3 linked regions of the Homo sapiens genome follow. The protein of the gene in region 1 interacts with the protein of each later gene in a biochemical or structural test. Each region holds a gene or a part of one and is shown on either strand. Other genes may lie near its edges.

What was found.
Region 2: of the proteins of ACOX2 (region 1) and CLK1, one has a biochemical effect on the other in vitro, tested with the Homo sapiens proteins (one large-scale study listed by BioGRID).
Region 3: the proteins of ACOX2 (region 1) and PEX5 interact in a test that uses a peptide from one of them, tested with the Homo sapiens proteins (one large-scale study listed by BioGRID).

The regions. Positions count from the first base shown.
Region 1 is NC_000003.12:58,527,124-58,530,778, forward strand, and holds part of ACOX2 (peroxisomal acyl-coenzyme A oxidase 2), read right to left. Parts: intron 3,516-3,655; coding exon 3,343-3,515; intron 1,834-3,342; coding exon 1,671-1,833; intron 1-1,670. UniProt on the Homo sapiens protein: Oxidizes the CoA esters of the bile acid intermediates di- and tri-hydroxycholestanoic acids. Capable of oxidizing short as well as long chain 2-methyl branched fatty acids.
Region 2 is NC_000002.12:200,854,607-200,858,261, forward strand, and holds part of CLK1 (dual specificity protein kinase CLK1), read right to left. Parts: intron 3,484-3,655; coding exon 3,367-3,483; intron 3,279-3,366; coding exon 3,112-3,278; intron 2,380-3,111; coding exon 2,285-2,379; intron 2,206-2,284; coding exon 2,076-2,205; intron 481-2,075; coding exon 398-480; intron 90-397; coding exon 10-89; intron 1-9. UniProt on the Homo sapiens protein: Dual specificity kinase acting on both serine/threonine and tyrosine-containing substrates.
Region 3 is NC_000012.12:7,206,654-7,209,445, forward strand, and holds part of PEX5 (peroxisomal biogenesis factor 5), read left to right. Parts: intron 1-1,005; coding exon 1,006-1,149; intron 1,150-1,356; coding exon 1,357-1,427; intron 1,428-1,803; coding exon 1,804-2,016; intron 2,017-2,351; coding exon 2,352-2,517; intron 2,518-2,792.

The sequences.
Region 1 (3,655 bases):
TATTGATGATTAGGACTAGGATTAGGAGGTATTATGATGGTAGTAGGAGTTGGGGCCTTCAGGAGGTAATTAAGTCATGAGGGTGGAGGCCTCATGAATGGGATCAGTGCCCTCATGAAAGAGGCTGCTTCTGGCTGGGTGTGGTGGCTCACACCTGCAATCCCAGCACTTTGGGAGGCCAAGGCAGGTGGATCACGAGGTCAGGAGATCGAGGCCATCCTGGCCAACATAGTGAAACCCCGTCTCTACTAAAAATACAAAAATTAGCTGGGCGTGGTGGCGTGCACTTGTAGTCCCAGCTACACAGGAGGCTGAGGCAGGAGAATCTCTTGAACCTGGGAGGCGGAGGTTGCAGTGAGCCAAGATTGTACCACTGCACTCCAGCCTGGGTGACAGAGTGAGACTGTCTCAGGAAAAAAAAAAAAAAGAAAGAAAGAGGCTGCTTCTACCATTTGAGGACACAGCAAAAAGCCGTTCAGGAAGCAGGCCCTCACCTGACACCAAATGCACTAGTGCCTTGACCTTGGACTTCCCAGCCTCCAGAACTGTGAGCAATAAATTTGTTTGTTTTTCTTTTTTGAGACAGCGTCTCACTCTGCTGCTCAGGCTGGACTGGAGTGCAGTGGCACAATCACAGCTCACTGCATCCTTGCACTCCTGGGCTCAAGGAATCCTCCCACCTCAGCCTCCAAAGTAGTAGTTGGGACTACAGGTGTGTGCTACCACACCTGACTAATTTTTCATTTTTTTTTTTTTTTGTGGAGACGGGGGTCTCACCATCTTGCTCAGGCTGGTCTTGTCTTGAACTCCTGGGCTCAAGCAATCCTCCTGCCCTGGCCTCCCAAAGTGCTGAGATTACAGGTGTAAGTCACCATGCCAGGCCAATTTCTGTTGTTTATAAACCACTGCTTTATGGTATTTTGTTACAGTGGCCCCAACAGGACAGAGGCTGCTGGGCAGCAGGACTGCTTTCAGATTTTGGTTCTTGAAGACCCTGCCTATCTTTGGAGCTTTCAAGTCCTTGGGAGGAAAGTTATGTCCCTTGATCTCTCTGTGCCTCATTGCAGTTGGAAGGGTTAATGAGCAGTGCTTATAAAGCATGGTAGCCTGGACAGACTGAATTTTACTATATATGTAAGTCCACAATGCTTTACCTGAGACCTGTGAGCCAGATGTGTTTAGGAATCAGAGTAACTTTTGGATTATAGAGAGGCCAAGTGGCATTTAAAGTGCATTTTATATAATAGCCCCAGTGGGGTTTGGGGCAGCTTTAGTGATTAAACACATTAATAATTTTACTGCAAAATGTATTCACACTCAGAGGGATAAATCAGGTCAGTTCAGGTCAAACTATGCCACCAAATGAGTTCCAAACAACTGTTTTTCGGAGCTTTTCAGGTTTCAAATACACATCAGGGGTTGTGGACCTGTGTTCTCTACGCTAGGTGTGATTGTTTTCTCTTAGTATGTTTGTAGCTCTCTGGGGGCTGGTTGTGGGTAAATTTATATACCAGGGTGCCGTTCACCCAGACGCCCTGGGATGCTGAAAGCTGGGAGAGGTGGGGGTGGGGAGTGCCCATGGGGATGGGGCTGTGGCTGCTCCCCAGTGAGTGGAACAATCTTAGCTCCCAGCGCCTGCCAGCGCCTGCCCCTCCGCAGACAGCAGGTACCTCAGGCAGGAAGCTGAAGTCTTGGTTCAGAATGGCAGTGTAGGAGTGCTGGAAGAACTCCAAGAGGCTGACTGCCAGGAAATGGAAGGCATAACTGATGGCCAGCTGAGGAAAGAGTTTCTGCTGTTGTGTCTGGTAGTCCAGGACCTTTGCCTCTGGGTCACTGAAGGGAAAAGAACCAGAAGATTTAGATCACTACCTGTTGTGTCCACCTTCCCCTATCCCCGACACCATAAAAACCTTAAAAACAGACAGTTCCTTAGAACTCATTGCAAAACTTGAACTGACATGAGGCCATTGATAATCCTTTAAAAATCCCATCTAACATGAACATCCACACATTTCACTGCAGGAATACTGACACATTTGTTGGTGGGTACTGCCCCTTGTTAAGGGAGGCTTATAGAATTCCAGCATATACACAGTATTATCCTAAAACCTGAAAAGTTCTGAGACTCCAACACGTCTGGTCCCAAGATTTCAGGTGAAGAGTTGTGGCCCTGCACCTGTGATGATTTGAACCTGTGACCTTCCACTGCCCGTGTGCACTTGCCGCGCGCTGAGGAATATGTCAAGCCTAAACAATAACTCTTAGGATGTAAACTCAGGTCTGATGGAACCCCAAGGAAGGGACTGTGTCTGCCTTATCCGCTGCTATGTCCTCAGTGCCCAAGGCTATGTCCGGCATTTAGGAGCTCGCAGTAACTGGATTGAAAGAGGATGTGATTACAAGAAGCCTCCTCTACAGACAGCAGCTGCTTACCTGGCGCATCTTTCTTATAACCACCCTGGGGACACTTCTGCAGCCCAGATAAATGGGCCTCGGGCAGGACAGCAGCAGAAGCCCCTTCTTCCCAGTGGCCCTGTCCTCCAGAGAACTCTTGCAGCCCAGATTCTGAAGCCCAGGCCAGGCGAGGGCGCTGTGAGCTTGCCAGAGGAAAGGACCCTGGGCTGAGGACTTAATGTGCCTTACTGCATTTCACCCTCCACACCACACTGAAAGGCCACTTCTGCCACACCCATTTTGTAGCTGAGGAAGCTGAGGGATGAAGTGAAATGGCCGAGCTGAGTGTTCACAGAGGGTTCAGGCAGCCCTTGCTATTCTGTGCTGTGGGGTGGAGGGAGTGGTAGCAACACAACCAATTACAACAAAAGGGATCCAGACTAGACATACCAGTGGGATGCTGACAGCACAGCTGGACAGAACGAGCTCAGCCACACACAGTCGATATGATATTGGATTTTGCTAGGCTCGGCCTGACAGAATCAACTCAGCCAGCCATAGTCTGATGCAGCTGGCAACTGGCTGACCCAGACCCGTCCAACCCGTCACAGCCGCACAGAACACGGCTGGACTCGGACAGACACAGAGTCAGACAGACCTGGTGCTACAGGGCCAAAGACACTATCACATAGAGCCCGATGGGGGCCAGGCACTGAGGATGCAGGTTAGGCCGGCTGGTCAGCCCTGTTAGAGGCAGCCAGAGAGACTCCTCTGACATGCCCAGATGGGGCCAGGCTGGGTAGATTTTGTGTTTGTGTGTGTGTATGTGGTGGGGGGCATTGCCTGCTCCCAGCACTCTGGCTCTGGCAGAAGGGTGGTGTCAGGGGGAGGCACTGTGGGACCAAGAGGCAGCATATCTGCGGTAGTCAGTCACTGGGCACCCCTTGCCTGGGCCGGAGCCGGGATTGGCGGCGGATGACCGAGTAGCGCATGGCGATGACACAGGCCTTCTGCAGTATAGGGAGGATCTCCCCTGACAGCAGCTCCACCCGCACCACCACCATGGGAAGGTAGTTGCTCTGTGCTGTACCGAGTTTGACGTAGGTGCCATCTGGCAAGACCTGTGTGGAACAAGGACGGGCACAAGTTCTGGGCCAAGGCTTCCCAGGATGCCCTCGCTTCTCCAGAGCTGTGGGGCTCCACACATGGAGGGCACCTCGCCCCTCAACCGGCGCATCTGGAGTTGGAGTGTTAAAATACC
Region 2 (3,655 bases), on another chromosome or scaffold:
AAAACGTACCTGGTTTTCTGTATCATATGTTTTGGTAGAGGTCCAAGAATCCTTTCCATCATTGCTAAATGCTCCTTACTATCGTGTGTCTAGAAATAAAATAAAAACAGACTTGGGGAAGATGACCACCAAAACAGACACAGTTAAAGCTGACAGCAAAAAAACTAACATTAAGGCTTGCAGAACAAACTCGCCAATGATTCCCTACATGGACACGGATAATTGCTTATATACTGAAAGATGTTTTAAATAAAACAATTATGAAAGAAATATGAATTAGTTTATTTATGCTTATCTACAATTAATAGTCTATAATGGGGGAAGCAAAAGTATTTATTCATATAAACAGGCACCTTTCTTGTGCAAAGCAAGGTTGAAATAGATCATTGTCACTTACTGGAAATACGGTAAACCCAAGATAGTATTCAATAAGAATGCATCCTATGCTCCAGACATCACATGGTTGGGACCACCCTAGGGCTGCAAAGCAAAGCAAAATTTAAGGAAAAAAAATACTCAATGTTTGTTAAAGAAATTAAAAAGTTAGTTAACACTAATACTTTAAAAAAAAAAACACATGTAATGTAGGCTGGGCACAGTGGCTCACACCTGTAATCCCAGCACTTTGGGAGGCCAAGATGGGAGAACTGCTTGAGCTCAGGAGTTCAAGACCAGCCTGGGCAACACAGCGAGATCCCACCTCTATTAAGATATATATATATCTGAATTGGCCGGGCACAGTGGCTCACGCTACAGGCATAATCCCAGCCCTTTGGGAGGCTGAGGCAGGTGGAACACGAGGGCAGGAGATCAAGACCATCCTGACTACACGGTGAAACTCCGTCTCTACTAAAAATACAAAAACAAAATTAGCCAGGCATGGTGGCAGGCACCTGTAGTCCCAGCTACTCAGGAGGCTGAGGTGGGACAATGGAGTGAACCCCATAGGCGGAGCTTGCGGTGAGCCGAGATCGCGCCACTGCACTCTAGCCTGGGTGACAGAGCAAGACTCCGCCCCCCCCCCAAAAAATTATATATATACACATATATATGCAATGTGATGTTTGAGCTGGAAGATCCTAAAGCAATCACTTAATCCAAGGTTAAATACAATATATATGGCCGGGCGCAGTGGCTTATGCCTGTAATCCCAGCACTTTGCAAAGCCAAGGCAGGCAGATTGCTCCAGGTCAGCAGTTTGAGACCAGCCTGCCAACATGGTAAAAACCCCATCTCTACCAAAAATAAGAAAATTAACCGGGTGTGGTGGTGGGTGCCTATAATCCCAGCTACTCAGGAGGCTGAGGCAGGAGAATTGCTTGAACCCAGGAGGCAGAAGTTGCAGTGAGCCAAGATTGCACCACTGCACTCCAGCCTGGGCGACAGAGTAAGTCTCCGTCTAAAAAATAAATAAATGATAAAAATAAATAAATTATATAGTGTTATATATAGTCTGGAATAAAATAGGCATTAAACAATTTTCTGAGATGGAGTCTCGCTCTGTCGCCCAGGCCGGAGTGCAGTGGCGCAATCTTGGCTCACTGCAACCTCCGCCTCCCGGTGTTCAAGCAATTCTGCCTCAGCCTCCTGAGTAGCTGGAACTACTGACGTGTACCACCACACCCAGCTAATTTTTTGTATTTTTAGTAGAGATGGGGTTTCACCATATTAGCCAGGATGGTCTCGATTTCCTGACCATGTGGTCTGCCCGCCTTGGCCTCCCAAAGTGCTGGGATTACAGATGTGAGCCACCGCGCCCCACCCTTGGCCTCCCAAAGTGCTGAGATTACAGATGTGAGCCACCGCGCCCCACCTGGCATTAAACAATTACATTTAAAAACCCTACCACATATTACAAATGTGAAAACAATTCCAGAAAGGTTAAGCCACTTGCTCAAATTCCCAGAGCTAATTATCTGGTACAATTGAGAGCTTAAAATCCATAATGCACTTCATGATACTTATCCCTTAAAGAGAATATGATAAAGCCCCACAAGTAAGACCTAAAACTGCTAAAAAAATTTTAAGTCTCAATAAGGAAATACAAAGGTTCTCAAAGGACAATTAATACTCACCTAAAATAACTTCAGGTGCTCTATAATGTCTTGTAGATACCAATGTACTGTGATGTTCGTCATCATATGTTGCACTACCAAAGTCTACAACTTTAATATCTGGATTTATTAAGGTGCGTTCATCACGTTTCTGAAAATCATAAATGATGGTTAAGAAGGCATAAGCTATTAAGGCATAAGATACTTTATGAATATTTTGGAAGACTTACTATTTTGGGATTATACGCCTCTGTGTAGTCAGACTGCACAAATAAGATGTTTTCAGGCTTTAAGTCTGTGTGAGTCAACTTATTACTGTGCAAAACTGAGAATAAAGAGAAAGTTGCTGTAATCAGAAAACACCAAACCAAACCAAATCACAAAACCCCACAACAGGCCGGGTGCAGTGGCTCACGCCTGTAATCACCTGAGGTCAGGAGTTCGAGACCAGCCTGACCAATATGGTGAAACCCTGTCTCTACCAAAATTACAAAAATTGGCCGGGTGTGGTGGCGTGTGCCTGTAGTCCTAGCTACTCGGGAGGCTGAGGCAGGAGAATCACTTGAACTGGGGAGGCAGAGTTTGCAGTGAGTGAAGACTGCGCCACTGCACTTCAGCCTGAACAACAAAGCGAGACTCCATTTCAAAAAACAAAAAAACCCAACAAAAAACCTCTGATTCCTTTCCCAAAGAATGGTCAACATTCCAGTCTGCTAGAAAATCACCAGTAACTAAAACTTACTACCTCTTATGAAGCTTTCTTTTATGAGATATATCACGCCTTAATTTTTACCCAGCATTCGAAGTTACTATTTTTGCGCATCAGAAAAGTCTAAATCATAGTCTGCAACAAAGTACGTTGTTATATGGTGGATATCCTACTTGCTGAATGAAATGTACACTGCTGGATCAACAGCCTGTAATCAAATCTCTTCATACCTATTCTTCCTCCCCCTTTATTTTTAATCAAATAAAAATTGTACACACTTAGGATGCACATTTTGATATGTGGAATGGATAAAACCAGCAAATTAACGAAGATATACCAAGAACTTACAATTCACAGACTTGCATATCTGATATGCCATCTTTCTGATATGATCCAGTCGAAATGGTAGAAAACCATTTTCTTTAATGAAGTCGTAAGTACTAAGTCCCAATAGTTCAAAAACAATGCAAATGTGACCATGATGCTCAAACCATTCCAACATCTGGACACAGCGGCTACAAACACATGAAAAATAGCTAAGTATAGTTGCTCCTAATTTAAATATACCTGATACCACTTCCCAAGTTCTAATCTGATACTTACAAAGTACTGTTGGGGTCTGTTGTATTCAGATGTTCCAGAACTTGTATTTCTGAGCGAGCAGCTTCACAGTATCTATCCACATTTTTAACTATTTTTACTGCTACATGTCTACCTCCCCTGTTAGAAAGATGCATGCAAATTTAAGAATGACAGACATGATGCTCAATTCCAGGTATTACTGTCTTCAAACTGTACTACTACTCTGACCCACTGTATTTTTTTAATTTATGGTTTAGTGTTCAGTTCTGATTCTATTACATGCTGAATGACACAAATTTCTTTCATCAAA
Region 3 (2,792 bases), on another chromosome or scaffold:
ATCATGACTTAGAATTTTGCTGGTAAGATTTAAGTGTTTTTGATTCTTTATCATTTTCACAATAATAATGAAAAAGGGCCTCATGTCTTTATTTTGTACAGTTTTATCTGAATTTATTCTTAACTGCATTTAGAAAGACCTCCACCTGTTGTTTTGCATCTTGTTTTCGTTCTGGTGTATTATTTTATGATGGTAACTACTCTCCAAAAACGGACTTTTTATTTGCATGTCCCAGATTTTGCAGCTTACTAGTGACTTCCCCTTTACCTCATTTCTTCTCTGCCTAGTGTAAAATGCCAGTTGACAAAGCTTTGCAGATAGTATCGTAACTCTTCTCTAAAGTGAGAAATCCTCAGCTGGAAGAGAATGGTGTCTTTCTGAAGTATTCTCTGCCATCTGGATTTTGGGATCCAGCTTTTGCTTACTGTCAGATACAGATTAATATTCATGATTATTAAGAATGAAATCGGGGAATAAATTAACATTTTCAAAATGCTTGAAAATGTTTTATCTAGTTGACATGTGGAATGACTCTGAGCTAAGTAAGAGTTATATTTGAATAGCAGGACTCCAAACAACATTTCCTTTATACATCATCACATTATTGAAGGATAACAAGAAATGCACTTTGCATAGCTAGGGACACTTTGTCTCATTACTATAAGCAGATCCTGTTGAGACATTCTGCCCCGTGGTGAGAAGTCAAGGTGTGGGAATACAAGCCTGTGATGACTTCCTAAAATAAGCTTATTTCCAGCGCAGATGAATTTGTAGACTTTCCTAGCTTCCCAGGTATCATGAACAGGAGATGGGAGCACAAACCTGATACCAAATGATTTTACTTGTGTCATACATGATCTTTATAATATGGAGAATTTGCCAGCAATTAATTCCGGAACCTGTTTGGAGGCCCTCAGCTTCTCTGCCTGCTGGTTGTCATCCTCACATCCCTGCTGTTCTGACGGTGCCACCTCTCAGTCCATCTCTCACGTGCTTTTCTTGTAGGGGTACCAGTTTGAGGAGGAGAACCCCTTGCGTGATCACCCTCAGCCTTTTGAAGAAGGGCTGCGGCGCCTTCAGGAGGGGGACCTGCCAAATGCTGTGCTGCTTTTTGAGGCAGCTGTGCAGCAGGATCCTAAGCACATGGAAGTGAGTGACTCCATAGTCTCATTTCTGGCTAGAGACTGCTTCCTCCATCTTGAGAAAGGCCCCAAGGAGAGTAGTGCAGATGGGTTAGGGCCTGGGTGATGGCCTAGGATAGGGGCTTGAGAGCGAGATGGTGAGTGGGAGAAGCCAGGGGGAAGGGCGAATGGAGAGGTGAATATGGGGTGATGGAATCTGTCAACTTCCCTCTAGGCTTGGCAGTATCTGGGTACCACCCAGGCAGAGAATGAACAAGAACTATTAGCCATCAGTGCATTGCGGAGGTGAGTACACTGAAAGGTGTGGGTGAGGTGCTTCCAAGGCTCTGCATATAACCTTTTGAATGACAGAAGCCCAGACCTGGATCCTTGTCTTCTTTCTGAGTGCTATCAAGAGTGTTTTCTCATGCTGAAACTCTGAGGGTTGGAGTGAATTCCATTCCTTCATCGGCTTTTGATTTTATTTGCGGCTTTGGTTGGCTCCTTGCCTGCTAAAACCTTCCCCTTAGATCTGTAACTTTATTATTAACTCATGTCAGAGGAGTCACAGGTGAGGCCATTGTGACTCTGCATTTCAAAGCTTGGCTTGGATCCCAGGGTGCTCACATGTGCCAGTGTCAGTCATTGCAGATATCAAGTCTGCCCATCCCTGATCAAACAGGTGTCTGGAGCTAAAGCCAGATAACCAGACAGCACTGATGGCGCTGGCTGTGAGCTTCACCAACGAGTCCCTGCAGCGACAGGCCTGTGAAACCCTACGAGACTGGCTGCGGTACACACCAGCCTATGCCCATCTGGTGACACCTGCTGAAGAAGGGGCTGGTGGGGCAGGACTGGGCCCCAGCAAGCGTATCCTGGGATCTCTCTTGTCTGAGTGAGTATGAGGGGTTCCTAGGATGAGGAATTACAGTAACCTAAGTCCCAGTAGGAGGGTGACCTTGGTTTTGGAAGTTTGGATGGATTGAGACTGAAGGGTCCTGAGAATGGGATGGGAAACCTAGGATCAAGTTGAAGGAGGTCTGCATTCTACAGTTCAGTGCTAGGATGAAATAGAAAAACAGGCTTCTATATTGGACTTTGAGAGTAGAAGAGATGACTGATAGATTGATGAATGTTGGGGATATGGTTGATCAATGAAGAAATTAATTTGGGGGGATGGGAATAGAGACATTCATCTACCTACTTTGTGTTTTTTTCCTTTTCATCCAGCTCCCTGTTTCTTGAAGTGAAAGAGCTCTTCCTGGCAGCTGTGCGGCTGGACCCTACCTCCATTGACCCTGATGTGCAGTGTGGCTTGGGAGTCCTTTTCAACCTGAGTGGGGAGTATGACAAGGCCGTGGACTGCTTCACAGCTGCCCTCAGCGTTCGTCCCAATGTGAGCCCAGGGGAGGAATGGAAATGGGACATGACTGTGTACCTTATTGAAGAGCCATTTGTTGGGAAGCTGGGTTTGATGGTGCATGCCTGTAGTCCCAGCTACTTGGGAGGCTGAAGTGGGAGGATCACTTGAGCCTGGGAGTTCAAATCCAGCCTGGGCAACATAGCAAGACCCTGCCCACCCCCACAAAAAAGAATAATTTGTTCAGACTTTTGGAGTCTTGGGGTATTTCATTCCAGTGTTCCATGTACTGACTGCCTTGGGAGGACTGG